Linked DNA regions of Homo sapiens. The protein of the gene in region 2 interacts with the protein of the main gene of each other region in a pairwise test. Each region holds a gene or a part of one and is shown on either strand. Other genes may lie near its edges.

Region 1 (7,756 bases), on a different chromosome or scaffold from region 2:
GGTGTTCCGCCCACCTCAGCCTCCCAAACTGCTAGGATTACAGGCATGAGCCACTGTGCCCGGCAAAAACTGTTTTTAAACCTGTTAAGGACCTTAAAGATACTTTACATGAACAAGCCAGCCATTTTATATCTGAATAAAAATACATTAACAACTTCTGTACAAAACACAATATAAATGATGAAATCTCTGATTTAAGCGGAAATATTTTCCAACTTTAATTTTGCTAGTTTTATTTCAAATCCAAACTTCTGTTCTCAACTAGATGGCCATTTTATCATTTCAGTTTTTTCTAGTTTATACCTATATCAAAATTAATCTTTTTTTTTTTTTTTGAGACGGAGTCTTGCTCTGTCACCCAGGCTGGAGTGCACTGGCACAATCTCAGCTCACTGCAACCTCTGCCTCTCGGGTTCAAGCGATTCTCCTGCCTCAGCCTCCTGAGTATCTGGGATTACAGGCGCGCGACACCACGCCCAGCTAATTTTTGTATTTTTAGTAGAGACGCAGTTTCACCACGTTGGTCAGGCTGGTCTCGAACTCCTGACCTCATGATCTGCCACCCCGGCCTCCCAAAGAGCTGGGATTACGGGAGTGAGCTACCGCTCCTGGCCGCTTCTATATGAAAAAACACACATCTTCTTGCCATCATCTTTAAATAAGTTAAAAAAAAAAAACCTTCTTACATGGCAAATGTTCAGGGTTGTACTAAAATAATGACCTTATTTGGACACTTTCTAAAGTTTGAATTGGTTTAATTCTGCAAACTGCATTTGTAAAGGTAAGAATTAACTGTCAAGATAGAGCCAGTCTGCTGCTAAGATAAATTCCCTTAATAAACATTTCCATTTTATTTTAAGCAGGGAGCTTTATCTTTAAATACTGTAAAAAATTACATCTCAGAAGCCCTTGTCTATGATAGTTCACAAAGACCAGATATACTCTAAAATGTTAATACTGTTTATCTCTGGGTGGTGGTATTACACGCCATTTTATATTTTACGTTTCTCAAAAAGCATCATTACCTTGCTAATTGACGGTAATACTGTAATTGAACAGTATTTTAAAATTAAATTTTAGATAGCTTATATTATGAAATACCAACACAGTCCACTTCTATGGAAGATTTGTTAAATGATTTTCCCCTATTGATAAACTGCTGCTTTAACAGGAGAATGATCTGATCAGGTGTCTATTAGCTTGGATGAAGACAAAACAGGTTTACTTTCCAGGCCCTTCTTTTCTTTAGGCTTTTGAGAAAATCCCAAAAGTGAGTTTGAACTTAATTACAGCGAATCTTGCAGTAGTAAACTTTTTGGGTGGCCAGAGTAACACCTTTCATTACAACTATCAGCTGAATGGCAAAAGACTTCCCAGGTTTACCAATGTTTTCAGAGACTTACTAGTATTCTCCTCTGTCATTATTTCGGAACAATTCCATTGAGAAACGCAATTGTAAACCGTTTCTATTTCAGGCCTATAAAAACCAGAACTGGGATGAAAGGCAAAGCCTTGACCTTTCTATTTTAGACTTTCATCTGTGTAGCTAAGCCATCTGCTTTCTCCCCACCCCATCCCATCTACTTAATGGACTGAAAATACTGCACCTAATTGCAATTTAATCAAAACAGCCTGACTTTTCCACTTTAATGAATTATGGCTCTTTCACCCGAAGGCTTGCTTGCAAAATTTTGCTTACCCTTCCCTCTCAATTCCTTCCCACTTCCCTCAATTATGGAATGTCAAATGTCTAAACTAAGAGACTAGGCTTCCCTGTGTGAAAACATCTAAAAAGCCCTTCACTTTCAACACTGAGCACCTGACGGAAAATCTACTCCATTCTCTCATCTGGATACGGGGCCGGTATAACCATCATTGTTGCAGTTACGCAGGAGGCACCTCGCAGCTCAGTCTAGAAAGGAGTCGCGTCTCTGCCGCCAAACAACAAGGCACTCAGCCCGGGAAAAGACAGACTGGGGTGGGAGGAAACCTCCCGGAGAAAGAAGGGATCTGGGAAGAAGAGGGAGCTCAAGCCTGGGAGGAAGGACCTTTCCAGGCAGGAAAGGGAAAGGTTGCGTGAAGTGGAGCTAGAAGCTGGGGGCCGAGGTGAAAGGGGATGAGGGGCCCGGGCCCGGCGGGAGGGCGCCGGGGCTCAGGAGAGCGGCTTCAAGGCCGGGTAGGAGGCGTGGGGGCCGAGGCGGGCGTGGGGGCCGAGGCGGGCGTGGGCAGCTCTCAGCCGACCGCCCGGGTCCGAGCAGCGGGGGCGCTTTCAGCGGCGGCAGGCGCGGGTGCGGGGGAGAGGAGCAGAAAAGAGAGCAGTTTGAGGGGCCGAGGGAGCCGCGTCCGAGGCCGGCGCGGTGGGGACCGCGGGCCCACCACCAGCCAAGCCCAGCTACTTAACTATTTGTAGAGCTGCTGCAGGCACAGGTCCAGGCTTTCGCCCTCCACCTCCTCGCGGGTGATGCGCTCTGACAGCGGTCGCGGGAGCGGGGGCAAAGGCGGCAGCTGGGGCGGCGGCGGCGGCACGGCCGAGTGCCCCGGGGCTGCCGCCGCCGTCGCCGCGCCCTCCTCCTCCTCCTCACCCTCAACCGCCGCCTCCTCCTCGGGCTCCGGGTCTTGCTCCTGGTCCCCCTCCTCCGTCGCGGCTACCGTGGCCGCCTCCTCCCCGGGTTCCTCTACCGAAGCCTCGGCCGCCTCAGCTTCTACCAGTTCAGGTTCGGGCTCGGGCTCGGACTCGGGTTCGGGTTCGGGTTCGGGTTCGGGTTCCGGCTCCGGCTCGCCGCCGCCGCACGGTCCGCGAAACTCGCCCAGGAATAGCTCCAGGAAGCGCCGGTAAGTTTTCTCCTCAGGGATGCAGCCGGCCATCGCTGCTCATGCCCCAGGGCAGACCGGGAAAGGGGTTGGGGGAAGCCCAGGAAGGGTAAGGGGCTGCTTTTGAGCCTAGGGCTCCGGCAAGGGCGGTTAACGGCCGCACCGGCACGAGCGATCAGCACTAGGTTGCCTGGAGAGGGCTCCCGCAGGCGTGCGCGCCGCCGAGCACCGACGTGCGCGGCCCGGGGGCGGAGCGCGCCGCCCCTCTCGGATCTGGAGGGAAAGTTGGTGGCGGGCGCGCGCAGGGTCCAGCGGCGGCCCACCCTTTATTCCTACGGAGAGCTCAGCCCACGCTGCCTAGAGACTGTCGCCATGGCAACCGGTTCTAATTAAGCATTGCAGGGTCCCTCCCGTCGAGTCCGCGGAGTCTAAAGGACACTCCACTCGCCCGCTCTCCAACTCTGAATGTCTTTATTGGTTGGATACCCTACCCTCACGTGGTTAAGAGTGAGCTAAGACATCTCCAAGTCTAGCTGTTGGTTCCCACTTGGGTTGCTTGGATCCCAATTGGATGTACTTCCATTTCCTTATCTGTTCCTTGCCTTAGCGTATGTTTTGAAAGATACCACACTGTGAACACCTTTTGTTGCAGTCTTTGAATAAGTAGTTTTCAGGCAGAGGGAGCTTCAAATACCTACCAAGTGATAAGTTCCTTTGCATAGGTTCTCTCTCACTTGATTCTGTGAAGAAAGTGGTGTTACTCTCATTTCTTAAAAGGAAACTGAAAATTATGATATTAATGGTAATTTACTTGTTTCAAGGTCTCCAAACTTCCAGCCTTGGCGTTGGAGAACTCAGGTCGTTCAGTCGCCAAAGCTTTCCGAAAGTGCATTTTTCCTTAACTCAACTCTGTCTCCGGAGATTCAATAGTGCAATTGTCTGTATAACACCTTATTTCTATTGGGCTTCATAGTTTACACATTGATTTCACCCTTTTAATTCTTACCACAGTCCCTTGAGGTATAGGACGTTACCGTTATGATTTTTTTTTTTTTGAGACAATCTCGCTCTTGTCACCCAGGCTGGAGTGCAGTGGCGCGATCTCAGCTCACTGCAACCTCCGCCTCTCGGGTTCAAGTGATTCTCCTGCGTCAGCCTCCCAAGTAGCTGGGATTACAGGGGCCTGCCACCACCCCCGGCTAACTTTTGTATTTTTAGTAGAGACGGGGTTTCACCATATTGGCCAGGCTGGTCTCAAACTCCTGACCTCAGGTGATCTGCCTGCCTCAGCCTCCCAAAGTGCTGGGATTACAGGTGTGACCCACCACGCCGGCCAATTATTCCATTTTATAGGTGAGAAAACAGCCTTAAAGACATGGTGACTTTGCTCAAGGTCACATGCAAGGGATGCAACAAGGACTCAATCCAGGTCTTTTCACTGGATTCACCCACTTCAATGGATTTTACCCATTAGTTTTCAGGCAACCAAGACTCCCCTCTTTAGTCTCTGCATAATGCATATTATACTTCATTATATAATATGTATTTTTTCTTTTCTCTTTCTTTTTTTTTTGAGACGGAGTTTTGCTCTTGTTGCCCAGGCTGTAGTGCAATGGCAGGATCTCGGCTCACTGCAACCTCTGCCTCCTGGGTTCAAGCGATTCTCCTGTCTCACCCTCCTGAGTAGCTGGGATTACAGGCATGTGCCACCACGCCCGGCTAATTTTTTTGTCTTTTTAGTAGAGACAGGGTTTCACCATGTTGGTCAGGTTGGTCTCGAACTCCTGATGTCAGATGATCCGCCTACCTTGGCCTCCCAAAGTGCTGGGATTACAGGCGTGAGCCACCGTGCCCGGCCAATAATATGTATTTTTTCTACATTTTGTTTGCTCTTCTTCCCCATCCCCCCAAGTCTCTTTTTTTCTTTCTTGGGTTGGAATTGAAATGACTTTAAGTGATTCTAATTTTCTTACCAAACTACACACAAACCTATTATTTTTAAGCCTTACTGAAGGAGTGGGAGAGAAAGAAGCTGTGTTGTTATACAGCTGTATAGATGATAGCATCATTACTGCAAACTGCCATGTCCATGGCAACATATAATTCAGCAAAAACATAGTGATTCTTTCTCTACTTTGAAAAACATGTTCTCACAAATTATCCACCCCATCCTCTCCATGTATTGTTTCTGGGTTTCAGTTGGATTTAGGGTCTGAAATATCGTTTCCAGTTATTAATGGCAGAAGAGGGAGTCTCTCTGCCAACTGTTTTCATATAATACTGTATTCTAAATCCCTGACCTGATACTGTTATTTTAAGATTAAGTGGGTTGAGCTCACTAATGTACATTATGGCATCATGTAAAACAGAGTTCCTCTCCTAGCTTGAGATTAAATAATACATGATAGAAAGAATATAGTGAATAATTGCCTTGAGTCCTCTATATTTTTTTCCCAAAGGTAAATGGAAAGATCTAATAAATCTGTTTCCAGAAATGCTGAATGTATTTATATGTGTTTTGTTTAAAACATAACCAGCGTAGAGCAACTTCTCTATGAGGTGCCAAGAAAGTCTTTAAACTCCTCATTTGTCTTTGTTTTCAATCCACCTGTTCATTTCCATTTCAGAATGTCTAGAAAAGATTGACAAAACTTTTTAGGCTGCAAACCTAAATGTCCACAATTTTACATTTCAACAATTGTTTAATATCTCAGAATTTGACATAATGACATTTAGTTCAAGAGTACTTAGCTGTCAACTGTAACAATTCATATCTACGCCTTCCTACTTTGTAACATAGTTGCCTCCCTCATTTGTGACATTAATTTATGACTCAGCCCACATTTCAAAGGAAAGTGATATATGTTGGGGAAACAATACTACTAAAAGAAAAAGCCCACACCTCTACATTACTATAAGTGAGAGGCGTGTTTGCTTATATTAATAAAGATATTCCTTCACAAAGATCAATATGGATCCTATTGCATCCATTTGACAAAGTAGCTTTGCCAGAAGGTAGCTGACAGCAAGTGCTGAGATCTCAGAGCAGCTGTGTAGGATGATTTTGCCATTGTCAAGAAGTCTTTAGTAATTATTTTGCATTAGTTTGCTCTCTTTTTCAACTCCTTTCTTATTACACTTTTCTAATCCCCTTGCATACTATCTATTAAAAAATATTGAGGGCTGGGCATGGTGGCTCACGCCTGTAATCCCAGCACTTTGTGAGGCTGTGATAGCTTGAACTCAAGAGTTCAAGACCAGCCTGGGCAACAAAGAAAAACCCTGTCCCTAAAATATATTTTTTAAAAAGGAGGCCAGGCGCGGTGGCTCATGCCTGTAATCCCAGCACTTTGGGAGGCCGAGGCGGGCGGATCACGAGGTCAGGAGATCGAGACCATCCTGGCTAACACGGAGAAACCCCATCTCTACTAAAAATACAAAAAATTAGCCGGGCGTGGTGGCGGGCGCCTGTAGTCCCAGCTACTTGGGAGGCTGAGGCAGGAGAATGGCGTGAACCCGGGAGGCGGAGCTTGCAGTGAGCCAAGATCGCGCCACTGCACTCCAGTCTGGGTGACGGAGCGAGACTCCGTCTCAGAAAAAAAATAAATAAATAAAAAATAAAAAGGAAAAAAAATATTGTTATGAAAAGTTTAACGTATTTTTAAGGTATCAAATTTTTAAAGTTTTTCTCATAAAAATTATTCTCCCTCTAACCCTTTGCTCTTTGGAGGAAATGTACAATGTCCTTTTGTGGACATTCATAGTAATGACATTTATAAGGTTAAAAAGAATTGTTGAGTTTGGCAGTTTCTTACATGACCCAGCAATTCCTCTCCCAGGTATTTTATTCATGAGAAATAAAACATGTCCACCAAACACACATGCACTTGCACACACCCCAAACACAAAAAAACTTGTACATAACTGTTCACATAAGTTTCATTCATAACAGCTCAAACCTGGAAGCAACCCAGATGTCCATCAACAAATGAACAGATAAAGTAGTGTATTCATACAATGGAATACTACTCAGCAATAAAAATAAATGAACTGCTGATAAACACAACATGGATGAATTTCAAAAATATACTGAGCCAAAAAAAAAAATCCAGGCACAAAAGAGTACATAATATATTTCCATTTGTATAAAATTCCCAAACAGGCAAAATTAACCTATATAGTGAGAGAAAGCAGATTCCTGGTGGCCTGGGACTGGGATGGGGTGGGAGATTTGTAGCAAAGGAGTAAGCAGGAACTTTGTGAAGTGATTAAAATGTTCTGTATCTTGACTGATTGGTCATATGGGTGTACTCATTTGCCAAAAATTATTGCCAGGCAGGGTGGCATGTGCTTATAGTCCCAGCTACTCTGGAGGCTGAGGCAAGAGGATCGTTTGAGCCTAGGAGTTCAAGGCTACAGTGTAATATGATTGCACCTGTGAATAGCCACTGCACTCCAGCCTGGGCAACATAGCAGAATCCATCTCAAAAAAAAAATTATCCAAGTCTGCATTTAAAATAAGTATATAAATTGTATATAAATTGTATATAAATTGTATATAAATTACACCTCAATAAAGTTGATTTTTAAAGTTAAAAAGAATTGATTACTGTGTCAGTCCTTGTCCATTTTGCCCTCATACCTATTCTTTCTCCTCCTTTGCCCTGCTCTGTATTGTAGGAGGGCTGACCCTTTCAGGCTGTATTCACTAGGCTACTGTGACAGCTGACTTTCACCTGGGATTTGTCCAGTGGTAGGCACTGACAAGAAATTGGAAGAAGGGAGGAAAGAAGAAAAGCCCTGTTCCCTAGCTCAGTCCTGAGGCCTGATGCATTTCCTTTGTAGCTTTCCTCCCCATGAATATGTTCACTGGGATTCTCTAGCTTTTGCCAGTGACCCTATCCCCTCAGCTCCAGAACAACATCTTCCCCCATTTGTCCTTTAG
Region 2 (7,788 bases):
AAAAGAGCATTGACTGTGTACATTAAAGAGCCACCGAAACAGCGAGGGACTGGTAAGTCTGCAGCAAATTCTCCCAGAAGCCACTGACCTTGGCTGCATTTCAGGGGTCAGGCATTCCCCAGGAGGGGCTCAGCAGGCAGACTTTACCAAGGGCTTAGGAACAAATGAGACATCTCATCTAGATGAGGCCACCTCTCCAAATGTGGCAAGGTGGAGATGATCTGCCCTCTGATTTGTGGAGATTACCTATGTGGCCTTTGGACCCACTCCAGCAGACACACCTCACCCACAAGACTGGTCAAAGACCCTGGCCCTCCAGGATATAACTGTCTCCACATCTGCATCTAAGTCTTCTAGCCAGCAGTTCCTGGTCCCCAAGCTAGCTGTTGCCCTCTCTGTTTCCACACCTCCCAGCAGGCAGAAAAACAGAAGCAGAGCCCTAAGCTGATAGCCCAGGCCACAAAGAGCAATTTCAGTGAATTGTGCAAAGATATATTTTCAAAATACAGATCACAAGAAAGCACATCCCAAGTGTGAACCGCAGTCGTCCGCCCAGTGGGCCCTCACCGGTTGCTCCCCTGCCTGCAGGCTCCGTGCTTGGTATCTCAGAAAACCTTCCCGAGGAAAAAGCCCATAAGGGACAAGTCCCGGCCCAACTTAAAATCACATCAGACTGCTTTCCAGTAGAGGAGCAAGGTCGAGATTCCGGCCCAGGGAAATCACCGCAAGCCCTGCGCATTGTTCAGACCCCTTCCCCCTTTGCCACTTCCCGCCCCCCACCCCGACCTCCGACCGATTCGCAGCACCCCACCCCCAGTCGGGGCCATCCATCCACCTGATTAACTCGCCGGCAGCAACTCCCAGCGTAGAAAGTAGGGCAAATGAACACACACAGTCGGTAAAGCAGGAAGCCACAGACCTGGCCAATGCACCCACCCTGTTACCAACCCCACCCCGCTGCGCAGGGGGCAGCCGGTTCTTGATGTGGCATTTCCACTCCAGGGAAATAGACAGCTTCCTGTAATAATGCATGAATGAGCTTTGGCTGCCCAACTATCAGAACAGCCCATTTCAAACGGCATCTCTGTTTCTTCTCAACTCCTTACTTGCCTTGCTGAAACCTCATCTCTTAGCCCAACAGATTAAGACGAAGAGAGAAAGACTTATTCAAAGAGATGTGGAGGAAAAGGTTTAATTAAGGAGACCAAAGAGAAAGTACCACTTTGATCACAAAGGTAGCACTTTAATATATCAGTGCAGATAGCGGCAATGTCAGAAGTACTAGGAATCCAGGTAAATGGCCCCAAGATTCAGCATCAATCTAACAATGTATTCCTCAGGAGGGCGTGTGAACTTCCATGCTTCATCCATCCTGGTGTCTCCCTGTAGAGAGCCACCATGAATTCCTTCTCATCCACCCTCCATACATCAAGTATATGCACTCGCTTTCTTTTTAATTTTATTTTTGGTTCGGGAGAGGAAGAAGCAGTCCTTAAATTGGTGTCCAATCCTTCTCAGACACCCGCTGCTGCCACCATCCCCACCCCTCACCCCCTTCCAGGCAGGCAGCATCTAATTAAAATGGCAAGAAAGCTCTGCCCCCTTCCCCAAAGGAGTGTGTTGGGATCGGGAGTTGGGGGTGGGGAAGCGTCGAAGCAGCACTTGGATTCCTGGTATTCTGATCTCAAAACAACAGCAAAATGGATTCTATATCAGTGATGTCTTAGTCAATACAATGAAACGGCGTCTGAGGTAATTCACGTGAAGGTAAACGCAAACCAGTGGGGCTGGGGGGAGGGAGGTGCTCTACAAAGGACTGGCCACAGACACGGGGAAAACACACACAGACACACACACACACACACTCGCACACACTCCAGGGAGTTCCGGTCTGATTGAGGAAAAGCAGAAAACACATCCCTTTCACCTGCTTAAGTTCAGCCATAAAACTGAAACGTTACAGCCACAAAGTCAGAAAGAACAGGCAGGGCTGAGTTAAAGCCATAAATAAAGGTGAGTGGCAGACTGGCATTTAAGGGAGCGCTGAGAGGGCGCCCGGGCGCGGGAGGTAGAAAAGGGGGAGGGGGAGGCAGTTGCCATCTACAAGACCAGCATAGCAATAACTGCCCCCTTGGAGCGGCAGGTTCGGCTTCGCGGGGACAGCCAGCCTCACAATGTCATCTTGCAGGTAGCTGGAAAACGTGAGGGGCCAGTGCCTTTATTCACGCTGGCATTCTTTTTGCAGAAGGGACAGTCGGGTCTCGCGCCTTGGCACCAGACAACTGCCCGGGGCGTGTACACACACACACACACACACACACACACGCACACACGCCTTTCATTTTAATGCTCTTACACCGGTATAAGATGAAACTGGCATAAGCTCTACGAGCCCTCGGGAGAGCCTAAGCCACGGCCAGAGGAAGACACGTACCGCACAGCCCCTGCCGTAGGGGCTCAGCCAGGAGCACCTCAGCAACCCCGAATCAAAACGGGAATCCAGGTTCCCTCCCCGACGCATTCTCCCGCTGCTGTCCCCCTGCCCCAGCCCCAGCCCCCAGTCCACGCACCGAGCCCATTCACCCTAACCCAAACCACTGGAAAGAAACCAGAAAACGTCCTGCTCACCCTCAGAGCCGAGAGATCTATTTCATCCAGGCTTCGAGCCGGGGAGTCGCTCGCCATGTCTACTTCTTCGCTGGAGAAATGGACCAAAACCACCCCGAAGCTTTTCCCTTGGAAATTCCACCTTGGTCTATTTCACTCGCGTCCTCATGCGGGTGTCGCGCCAGAGGCCCCGGGCCCAGCCTCCCCCGCCCACCCCAGCCCCACAGCGCCGGATCCCGATCCTCCGCGCGTCGGTCCGCCGGGTCCGGGAGCCCAGCCTGCGCGGATCTCCAAGCCCCGAGCAGCGGTGCGTGTGGGCTGAGCGCCCCGATCGGCTAAGGGCGCTGGGGCTGCGTGGGTGTATTTAAATGGGACATGCTTCTTTGCTTGTGCGTGGATGGCGGCTGCATTGGCTGTTATAATGAGACACATCAACTCCTCCACTCAGCAGGGGGAGGGTGGGGGTGGAGAACCACGCAGAACTGTCTATCACCGCTTCCTGGGAGGAGTGAAGGGGGAGTGGGGAGGCGGAGGAGGCGTGGTCTTGGACTGGGGAGAGGCCGCGCTTCCTGACCCGGTCCCTCTGCACCAGCGTGGAGGGGGGAGGGGCGCGCACCCTTTCCGCCCAGGCTTTTGCGGGCTCCTCGGGCCGAACCCGAAGGGGCTGTTCCTGAACCTTGACTTGTTATCATAGGGACCCAAGCTCTATTTTTGTGTGGCCAATTCGTGCACTGCAGCAAAATGGCCCTTCAGTCGCGTCTTGGGGTTTCTCCTCGGTTCAAATGCTCTCGCGCTGAGAAAAAGCCGGAGGAAAAAAAAGCGACACCCTCCCTCCCCCATTAATTATTTGTGGGGCCGGAGTAACGCGGGCTGGTGCAACCGGTGCATATAAGGACTTGTGTGCAAGGAAGGGGATCCGCCTCCAGGCGCGGAAAGAGTAGGGAAGAAGCGCACACGCACAGTGCACCCAGCTGGGCGCTTCGGCAGTTTGCAGCTGCGGCGGGGTCGGGTCCACCCGCGGTCCCCGGAATGCCGGACGGCTGATCCCGGGTGCTGGTCACTCGCCGATTCGGGGCTGGGAAGGTTTGCCAGAAGCGGGAAAGATGGGAGATCTGAGCGCTCTCTTGGCATCGCCACACCCAGGACTTGCTCGTGCCGCAATTCCCCACGGAAACAACCGAGTTGAAACGAGAAGCTTGCTCTCTGGGTGCAGTAGCTAGAAGGCTTCAGGTAACTCCAAAGCCAACACTGGGTGAGGCAACACACGCCGCCTCAGGACTCAGCATTTCTTTCAGGCTGCGTTTTCGTGGCAGACCTACCCAGATTGATGGAGAAAGTTTGGCTGGCGGATAAGAAGTAACGCGGAAGATGTGTACGTGAGAGCGATTTCACTTCACTCACTTTCTCATTTAAAGGTTGGATGTTTTACAGTGGTATACATGATTCTCCTTCTGTAATCAAGAGTGGGAAGTCGCTTCCCCCAATCCCCGCGCAGCCCTTCTTCTCCCGCCTTAGCCATGCAAAATACCTAGAAAGAAAACACTAAAACTGAACTTTTTTCCAAATACAGCAGTAGCTTTGAAAGCATTCTTTGCTCCTCTGTTAACAGCAGAATGTAATTCTGACCACTGCACTGATGGTTTCTTAATCATGCAGTATGAAGATCAGCTTCAAAATAAGTCTTATGAATGAATGAATGAAAGCCAGTGCAGTTAGTTCATCATGACTGCAGACATTAGAGGACTTTGAAACAACCTTTGGTGTACATTGTACTGTTTTTGTTACTGATATTGTATGTATTCATATGCATTGTGGATCATGCACCATGAAACTTGAAAATTGTTCCAACATCTCAATGGCCACAACAGTTTGGTAGCTTTTGCCTGTAAACGTTGTATGTAAACATTTGAACGTGTTATACTAAATTACTAAACTCATTTTTTACTAAAATCATCTGGTTCGACATAGTAAGTAACGTGCAGTAAGCCACCACGTCGAAATGAAAAAAAAAAAACAGATTATTTCCCATCATTGTCTTTGTTTTTTTCTCTTCTGTGTTCCTGTTTTTTTACCGTTCATCTAGACAACAGGTTAATGTATTGTCTCAGGGTTGAAAGAAGATAATTTAAGATCAAGTATTAAGATCTATAAACAACTATTTTTTTAAAACTGCAAACATAAGGAAATATGAGTTAAATATTTTTTCCATGGAAAGCCTTCGTTTTATACTCATGATTATATTTGAAACATCACAAACAGATCAACTTTTTTGACATTAGTGAGCTGTTTGGGCCACGAGGGTGCCAAGTTGGCATTCAGATTTAGTTTAGTTTTAGATGAGAAAGTTATAGATGCAGTATGATGCCAGGTGCTAAATGGAGGAGGGCTTCCTAAGAGCCTGAGAAGTTGATGAGACAGCCAGGGGAAGGCAGGGGTGTGGGCTGCAGGAAATACCATAAAAGGAGAGATTGCAGTATCAAAGGGACCTCCAACTGGTAAAGGAAGGTGAGAAGGAGGAACTTGAACTTTTTCCTTTTGGTCAAGTGTGTATCAAATTTCAGCTATTCCAGTATAAATTTCCTAATTTTTTCCTATGTCTCTGTATTGCCTGTACTATTTTACCACTTACTTAACATTTTTCTTTAAATCAACACTTTTTTCTTACACTTAATATAAAAGAAAACATAAATCACTACTCTAAATGGAAAGCCAACAACACTTGCTTTGAAAAAAAAAGGGGGGAGGAAACCATTAAAATAAATATAATGGAAAATAAAGAAGTATTATTAAATTCTAGCTAGCCATCAATTCCTGCTCTGGGCTTCTAGCCTAAGGCCTACTCTTAGTTTGTTAAAAGAGAGAATAGCAAATACCAGGAAAAACATTCAAGACTTGAGATTTTTTTCTTGATGTAATCTGAAGGATTAAGAGAACTGACACCATTTATGTGCAGTTTGAAAACCTGCCGAATAATACACTATGCTGTTTACATATGTATAAATATGTAGTAAACTATATAAAGCATGGATACAGGCAGTAAGGATACAGATTAACTTCAGGATAATGAGAAAAGAGGAAGAGGAAAAGGAGACTCCAACAATGATACCTAATTTTTTTGCTAAAGATTTCTGCCAGGCACGGTGGTGGCTCACACCTGTGATGCCAACATTTTGGGAGGACAGGTTGGGAGGATAGTTTGAGTCCAGGAGTTCGAGACCCGCCTGGGCAACTTGGTAGAACCCCATCTCTACAAAAAATACAAAAATTAGGTGGGCATAGTGGTACACCCCTGCAATCCCAGCTACTAGGGTGGCTGAGGTGGAAGAATTGCTTGAGTCCGGGAGGTTGAGGCTGCAGCAAGCCAAGATAAGCCACTGCACTCCAGCCTGGGCGACAGAGGGAGACCCTCTTTATAAAAATGAATAGAAAATTTGAATAATAAGTAATACTATGCTGCAGATATTTTTCTAAGCATTTGTTCTATCTGAATGTTTGTGTCTCCCAAAATTTATGTGTTGAAACCTAACCCCCATAGTGATAGTATTAAGAGGTGGAACCTTTAAGAGGTGATTAGATCATGAGGGCAGATCCTTCATGAACTGGATTAGTGCCCTGAGAAAAGAAGCTTGAGGGAGCCTGTTCGCCCTTCCACCACATGAAGATGCATAGAAGGGGCCATCTGTGAGAAAGGAGCCCTCAGCAGACTTCAAATCCGCTGATATCTTGATCTTGGACTTTCCGGCCGCAGAACTGTGAGCAATTCTGTTTCTGTTGTTTATAAATTACCTAGTCCAAGGCATTTAAGTAATTTAAGTAACATGGAGAATAAATCCAGAAGGCCCAATATTCATCTGATAAGGGATCTAGAGAATGGATGGAAGGAAATACTCAAAAAATGGTAGAAAATATTCCAGTATCTTGACTGGGCACGGTGGCTCACACCTGTAATCCCAGCACTTTGGGAGGCTGAGGAGGGCGGATCACCTGAGGTAGGGAGTTCAAGACCAGTCTCACCAACATGGAGAAACCCCGTCTCTACTAAAAATACAAAATTAGCCGGGTGTGGCAATGCATGCCTGTAATCCCAGCTACTAGGGAGGCTGAGGCAGGAGAATTGCTTGAACCCTGGAGGTGGAGGTTGTAGTGAGCCAAGATCGTGCCATTGCACTCCAGCCTGGGCAACAAGAATGAAAAAAAGAAAATATTCCAGTATCTTTAAGTAAAAAGCTCTCATTTAGCTCTGAGCCAAATGCATAGGTAAAAAATAACACACTTAAACACCTCACAGTGAGATTTCAGAGCATGAAGGATAAAAAGTAAATCTTAACTGGATTACCTTCTCATCAGCAACAATGGATGCTAATAGACAATGGAACAGTATTCTAAGGAAATCATTGTAATGGTGTTTTGTCTTGTTTTGTTTTGTTTTTGAGACACAGTCTCTCTCTGTCACCCAGACTGGAGTGTGTGGCTGGCTCATTGCAGGACCTCAGTGAGTTCAAGCTATCCTCCCACCTTAACTACCTTAACCCCACCACCACCCAATAACTGAGCTGGGACCACAAGTGCGTGCTGCCATGCCTGGCTAATTTTTTTTTTTTTTTTTTTTTTTTTTTTTAGAGCTGGAGTCTCAGTAAGTTTCCTTGGCTGGTCTCAAATTCCTGGGATTCCACCTCGGCTTCCCAAAATGTTGGAATTACAGGTGCAAGCCACCACGCCCAGCCTCTAAGGGAATTGTTTTTAACCTAGACTACCAAACTAAATTAGCACTTAAGAGAGGGTACAAAATAATGACACATATTTTCAGATATGTAAGAGTTGAGATTGCTGCCCATCCTTGAAATTACTTTTAGAGAATGTCTTCCACCAAAGAGTAAACTGAATCCAAAAACAAAGTGTGTGTTACAAAAGACAATGATAAACAAAGGTAGCAAACTCTGTTACCTGCTCAAAGCCATTCTTTCTTCCTTACTAGTAAAACACCGATTTTGACAATTTACCCTCCATGTGTGTAAAACATATAGATTCTCCCCAGCCCCATTCTATTCTCTCTCCTAATGATTGGTTTAGACATAGGCATATCATTCAACACTGACTACTGAGAAGTGCAGAGAAGTCTGGTAGGGCTTATAGATATGGTTTTCCTCCATCGGGCACCGTGGCTTACGCCTGTAATGCCAG
Region 3 (7,032 bases), about 130 Mb from region 2:
CAATAAAAAATAAAGATGAGAAAGAGCTCTTTCCTCTTATCCAGTGTGCTGATTATTCTACAAATTGCAATTCTCCCAGCATGACATAATAGCAAAAGACAAACAGCATTTTGGTGTGGAAATTTATGTCTCATCTGGAATTAAGAAATTTAATTTAAAAATTAAAAACAGCCTGGGCAACATAGTGAGATCCCATTGCTACAAAAAATAGAAAAAATTAGACAGGCATGATGGTGTGTGTCTGTAGTCCCAGCTACTCAGGAGGTTGAGGCAGGAGGATCGCTTGAGCCTGGGAAGTCAAGGCTGCAGTGAGCTGACTGTACCACTGCACTCCAGGCTTGGCGACAGTGACACCTTGTCTCAAAAAATAAATTAATTAGAAATGCTGGCTGGGCATGGTGGCTTATGCCTATAATCCCAGCACTTTTGGGAGACCAGGGTCAGAGGACTGCTTGAGCCCAGGAGTTCAAGACCAGCCTGGGCAACATGGCAAGACCCTGTATCTACAAACTTTTTTTTAAAAAAAATAGCTAGGTGTGGTGGCATGTGTCTGTGGTCCCAGCTACTCAGAAGGCTGAGGCGGGAGGATTCCTTGAGCCCAGGAGGTCAAGGCTGCAGTGAACTGTGTTCACGCCACTGCACTCTAGGCTGGTGTGACCATGCTGGGGGGCAAAAAAAAAAAAAAAAGCTATGACATAGCCAAAGTCTTCCTCATAATGTTTCTCAAATGAAAATGCTGGCCAGGAGCAGTGGCTCACGCCTGTAATCCCAGCACTATGGGAGGCCAAGGCAGGTGGATCACCTGAGGTCAGGAGTTCGAGACCAGCCTGGCCAACATGGTGAAACCCGGTCTCTACTAAAAATACAAAAAATAAGCTGGGTGTGGTGGCGGGCACCTGTAACCCCAGCTACTCAGGAGGCTGAGGCAGGAGAATCACTTGAGCCTGGGAGGTGGAGGTTGCAGTGAGCCGAGATTGCGCCACTGCACTCTAGCCTGGGCAACAAGAGTGAAACTCCGTCTCAAATATAAAAAAAAGAAAAGGAAAAGAAAATGCTAAAACCAGTAGTCACATCAAGATATGAGTTTAAAATCCCATAAAAATAAATTACCAAGTAAGATTAATAGAGGCAAACTTTCCATATATATTAAGTGGATAGGGGGAGTTTTAGTCTTCTGAATTTGTAAATGAACAAATATTTCACTACTCATAATGTACTACTAATAGTATATTATTTATAAAACTAGTTCAATAATCATGTTGGTCCTAGGAACCTAAAGAAGACACCAACAAGATCTTCTGTTATACGTAAATTCCTTGTCAGTTTTTATTTTGAAACCGTAGCTTGATCTGTTGTGGGAAACAAAATTCAAGATCAGTTCAACAATGCTGCATCATTAAAAACAAAAAAGCTAGACGTTTTCTAGTTTAAAAAAGACTAGGAAAATATGACCACTAAATGCAATGTGAAATCTCAAGTGGATCCTGGATTCTAAAAAATTATGGGAGACATTATTTGGAAAACTGTAAAAAACTGAGTATTATGTACTATATATTAGTATTAGCTAATATTAAACTTCCTGAGTGTAATAACTGTACTGTATGTAGAAAAATGTCCTTGTTCTTAAAGATACATGCTAAAGTACTTAGTTTATGTTTACAATTGTCAAATGCTTGCAAGCATGTCGGCAAGTAATTGCCAAATGTTACAAATGGGGAATAATATAAATGGAGAGAGAACAAGAGTGACAGCAAGTCAGAAAATCTGGCCAAACATTACTAGGTGAAGGGTATATGGGTGTTCATTGTACTATTTTTGCAAATCTTATGTCTGAAATGTTTCAAACTAAAAGTTGAGGAGACAATCAATTAATCAATTAATAGAAATGCTGCACAATATACATTTCCAGTGATAATTGATATTCAGCTGCAATAATAACAAGTACAATGCAGTATTATTTTAAAAGGAAAACATTAAGACTTAATGGGTTAGCTATAGAATTTACAGTTTTTCAATGTTCACATTTATTATCAAAGTAACCTAATAAAACCATGCATTGTACTGCCAGCCATTGTAATGTGGATGACAAAAATAAGACAGTTCTGGATAATCGCTAAGGCAAATCAAATAATATATATTAAAATCAAAAGGAGGCTCAAATGAAGGCACAGAAGATTTTTAAAGATAAAAGCTTAGAGGGCCAGGCACAGTGGCTCACGCCTGTAATCCCAGCACTTTGGGAGGCCAAGGTGGGCAGATCATGAGGTCAGGAGATCGAGACTATCCTGAATAACACGGTGAAACCCTGTCTCTACTAAAAATACAAAAAATTAGCTGGGCATGGTGGCGGGTACCTGTAGTCCCAGCTACTCAGGAGGCTGAGGGAGGAGAATGGTGTGAACCCAGGAGGCGGGGCTTGCAGTGAGCCAAAAACACGCCACTGCACTCTAGCCTGGGTGACAGAGCGAGACTCCGTCTCAAAAAAAAAAAAAAAAAAAAGCTTAGAGGCTGAGGTAGGAAGATCGCTTGAGCCCAGGAGTTCGAGACCAGCCTATGCAAGACCATCACTACAAAATAAAATAAAATAAAAAAATAGGTGCCTTAGAGTCCCAGTTATTTGGGAGGCTGAGGTGGGAGGATCCCTTGAGCCCAGGAGCTGACACAGGAATGAACTATGATCACACTACTGCCCTCCAGCCAGGGTGATAAAGGCTTTACTTATTTTTTAAAAAAAAATAAATAAGGCCGGGCGCGGCTCACGCCTGTAATCCCAGCACTTTGGGAGGCCGAGGCGGGCGGATCACGAGGTCAGGAGATCGAGACCATCCTGGCTAAAACGGTGAAACCCCGTCTCTACTAAAAAAAAATACAAAAAATTAGCCGGGCGTAGTGGCGGGCGCCTGTAGTCCCAGCTACTTGGGAGGCTGAGGCAGGAGAATGGCGTGAACCCGGGAGGCGGAGCTTGCAGTGAGCCGAGATCCCGCCACTGCACTCCAGCCTGGGCGACAGAGCGAGACTCCGTCTCAAAAAAAAAAAAAATAATAAATAAATAAATAAATAAATAAATAAATAAATAAATAAAAGCTTAAAAGAACGGAGAAATGTTGTATCTTGCCATTTTAAACCTTGATACTATTATTAGCTGGATATTAACAATCACTGAGAGTATTTATTTTAATTATAGTGAAGCCCTACTAATTGTGATCTGTTTTTGATTTTGTGAAAATTCTAGCAAAGGCTGAGGTAAAGATGTATGGTACATTTTCAGAGGGTGCTAAATCAACCTAATAGCATGAAAAATACATAGAGATGAGGGGAGAGGGTTTAAATGATGAAGACAGTCAACTGCGTTGAAACATTTCATATGCCTGCATTTCACTGTAATATGTTAATCAGGAAGAATCACATTCAATTAAAGTAGGCTGCCTAACGGTCTCCTCAGGACAAATGTGTTGTCTTGTGTTAAACTGTCTGATTTCAGGAAGTAATGAAGCTATATTTTAAAATTGATCTTACTAGTTTTCATTATTTCTGACTGGCCTTGACTCAGGCTTTACAGGATTTTGAATTCTCACGGAATATACCACTTCATTTTTATCTAGAAAATGATTTTTCATTTCTCTCTCACAATCATAATTTCAAAGATCATTCTTGGAAAATTAAAAACAAAAGGGAAAATAAGTTACATAAATACTTTTTTGGATTCTTTAACAAAATTTCAAAGAGCAATTTTCAAACTTTCAATTACTCTTTAAAGAAATGAAATTTCCTAAAATTATATAACTCTTACTGGTGGTAGTAATTTTTAACTATTATCGATCCATATAACAGAATGAACAGAAAATACTTATATTAACCCATAGCATAATCATATATTTATTAAACAAGAGCAAAAGAATTCCAGCAAAATGGTTAGTATCAGGCAACACATTTGATTTTTGCACAAAAGACACAAGACATTGTTCTTCACTCACCACATGTTAACTAAGCACAGACTGATGGTTTACTCAGAAGATACCACTGCGAGGTGAAGTAAACTACAAAGCCAGGAAGAAAAAAAGCTTATTGGGTTAGTTTTAAGACTTAATATAACACATAGATTGTATGTGTATATGAAGTTCATAGGATTACAGACTGTACTTAAATTTTTCTCAAATCTCCCCAAATCAAGGGTGTACAGGCAAGGAATAAGGAATCTGTAATACCTCCCCCCATATCCTAGGTAAATATAATATTATGTAGCTGAGATTTTACTTGCAACTTTCATTTGAAGACTTAAACAACGTAATGAAAGGTGTACTGCATATTTTAAGTACATATTTACCAGCTGAATTACGGGGCAATTATTTGCTTTACAAAAGGATCTCTTTCATAATTCCATGAAAGTACACATTAAAATTTGATTTACATAATCTCAATTTACCCTAAAAAGTTTTCGGGAAAATGATGATGAATTTGAAGAGCCATGTGTCTATATGTTGAATTCTCATTCCTAATGTGTCAATTTGATCACTGAATAACTCTCTTGTAATTCAACAATGTATCAGAAATGGTTTCAGGAATGGTGACCCAAACTGAAATTTCAATTTAAGGAAACTCAATCTCAAATATAGTTTTTACTGTGACAAACCTTAAATAAATTCTATGCCCCATTTTAAGATGGTCATTGTCCAAAATCATTAATTACCTTCACGGTGATTTAAAATGGCAGCATTAAAAACAAAGATTGCTTATAAAATCTGAGTCTATTCTTGGATAGTGTGGCCAACCTCAGAAACATCATTTTATTTATCTTTCATATTTAAAGTTAGTAAAAAGCAGCAAAACCAAAAGACAAGCTAGAAAATAATATGTGCAACACACACAACACAATGAGGTTAATATCCTCTCTGGCAGAAGTATACAAAATCCATGTATATGGATGTTCCCTATGTCTATGCTTGTAAAGTACTGAAAATCTTGAAAACATAAGTAAATGGAATGAGGAGGAAACTGGTGAACTAAACTGTAGGACATCCATATAATCATACAATCAGCCATTGAAAAGAATGAGACCAATTTGTAATAAGGTGGAATAATATAAAAATATATTAAGTGAAAAAAGCAAGCCATTGCATACTCTCATTTTTATAAAATAAAATGAATGATAAAGGAGTAACTATAAATATGTAATTACATGGCTTAGAAAACATGGAGATATTCCCCAAACTGTTCACAGAGATGATACTGGCATAGCAGAAGTAGTCTGGAGGCTGAAGATCATGAGGGACTCCCTTTCTATGTTTCTGGCTTATAATATTTTTTCCAGTGATCACGTATTACCTTATTCTACCAACACCAGAATCAAAACCAATCTCAAGAAAACAAATATGTATTTGACATGTGCAATATTTTCTATAATGTGTCAGTTTTATTTGTATGTGTTTCCTGAACCCACCTTGCATGCATCTTCTGAGCCCATGCAGAGGGAAAGGGTAAACCTCGTGTGGGAATGGAAAACTTTTGTACCTAGCAATGCTGAAAAGTTCTGATTTTATTAATTCGGAGGAAATTTTGAAAATTCCAACAGGGGAAGAAAATGAGACGTTAAGAGAACACAAGACTGGTCCAGGGCAAGGACTGATGAAGAACTATATACACCACCAAGAATCAGTGTGAAAGCAAAGTTGAAGGAGAGTCAACAGAAGAGCAATTGAAAAAGATGACTAGAATGGACAGAGAACACAAACAAGCCAACCTTCTCCATCAAAGAGAAATTTTCTTTAATGGAGTCATCAAGAAAACAGTGATGTCCATTTATGTCATTACATTTTGCTAGCACTCTAAAGAGAAAAATGTCTAAGAAAACTTTTAAAGAGGGGTTTCCATATAACAAAGGAATCTCAATTCTGAGATGCTTGTTACCCAATTACAATAAACTTTCCTAATGAAATTATCTTAAATAATGTAATAATACTCTCATTTTAAAAAAAATCAGGGTGTACTTCTAGGGCAGTTTTATTCAATAAAAACACTAACAATTAGATGAGCCAAGAACTTATGTATTCACTCTTGCCCATATTGTGCTACTCGAATATCCAGTCTACTCTGGCCATCTAAGCTACCTAAACCATCATAAAATGAAGTAGCAAGGTATAGTAAACTAAAAATTGAGAGGAGGGAAAAAAAGCTGTTCTAGGAAAAACAGAGATATGTGCATTTGGTATGTGCATTTTGTTTTAACTTCTGCCTGCTGTTTAGAAGGCAATTCTTTTTCCTACTTGAAACAAATATAAAACAAGATTTTATACTTTGTGGGGAAAGAAACCTTAGAGATAGTATAATCCAACAATCTCATTTTACCAATGAGGGTCAAAAATATGAAAACAGTTTGCGCTAAGTTATACAGCAGTCAAACCATTGAGATCTAGGCTCTCATCCCAGCAATGTCGCATGTCGCTGGCACTCTAAGGTACCGAAGTTGGAGATGGGGGCATTTTGTGGGCTGGTATCACCGTGTGACTTGACCCTCCTACTGAGGTCTTTAATGGTTTTTCTTATACACATCAATGATTTACCTTTCCAGTCTCTTTTTCCAGAAAAGACTAGTTCTACACATTGCTAAAAGGAGGCTAAATAATTATCACCACCATCCCTACATTATCACTCAGCGCAGGCAACTGTACTCTGGTTCCTGGACAATCCTAACAAGATTATGTTAGTCTTGTGAAGAAAAGAGGCTCTGAGAATTGCCTGAGTTTCCACAGCAAGTCAACAAAGGACTAAGATTCCTTCCCTATACACCAAGACCCTCAAATAAACCAGACTGTAATTATGCTCTGTAATTTAACCTTACTTAACAGATAGTGATTTCTCATCTATAAAATCTACTCGAGACTAGGTTAAACTCTGAAAACAGTAATAACTTGTATCCTGTAATGAGGTTTTTTAAATAAAGAGTATAAAACTCACTGAAGAGAGAGAAGTATAGTAAAGATAAGATATATTGAAAAGTACCTCACCAGCAGTCATAGAAAGCTTTTGATTAGTGCT

The links. Proteins that work in one complex are often made in the same cells at the same time.
Region 1: the proteins of TNIK (region 2) and PPM1E interact in a two-hybrid assay, tested with the Homo sapiens proteins (2 studies listed by BioGRID and IntAct).
Region 3: the proteins of TNIK (region 2) and GOLGA4 interact in a two-hybrid assay, tested with the Homo sapiens proteins (2 studies listed by BioGRID and IntAct).

What each region holds. Positions count from the first base shown.
Region 1 is NC_000017.11:58,751,107-58,758,862, reverse strand, and holds the start of PPM1E (protein phosphatase 1E), read right to left. Parts: upstream 3,010-7,756; 5' UTR 2,866-3,009; coding exon 2,402-2,865; intron 1-2,401. UniProt on the Homo sapiens protein: Protein phosphatase that inactivates multifunctional CaM kinases such as CAMK4 and CAMK2. Dephosphorylates and inactivates PAK. May play a role in the inhibition of actin fiber stress breakdown and in morphological changes driven by TNK2/CDC42.
Region 2 is NC_000003.12:171,457,379-171,465,166, forward strand, and holds the start of TNIK (TRAF2 and NCK-interacting protein kinase), read right to left. Parts: upstream 3,028-7,788; 5' UTR 2,686-3,027; coding exon 2,629-2,685; intron 2,014-2,628; exon of another isoform or gene 1,840-2,013; intron 794-1,839; exon of another isoform or gene 568-793; intron 1-567. UniProt on the Homo sapiens protein: Serine/threonine kinase that acts as an essential activator of the Wnt signaling pathway. Recruited to promoters of Wnt target genes and required to activate their expression. May act by phosphorylating TCF4/TCF7L2.
Region 3 is NC_000003.12:37,358,248-37,365,279, reverse strand, and holds part of GOLGA4 (golgin subfamily A member 4), read right to left. Parts: intron 4,038-7,032; coding exon 4,008-4,037; 3' UTR 3,975-4,007; intron 1-3,974. UniProt on the Homo sapiens protein: Involved in vesicular trafficking at the Golgi apparatus level. May play a role in delivery of transport vesicles containing GPI-linked proteins from the trans-Golgi network through its interaction with MACF1. Involved in endosome-to-Golgi trafficking.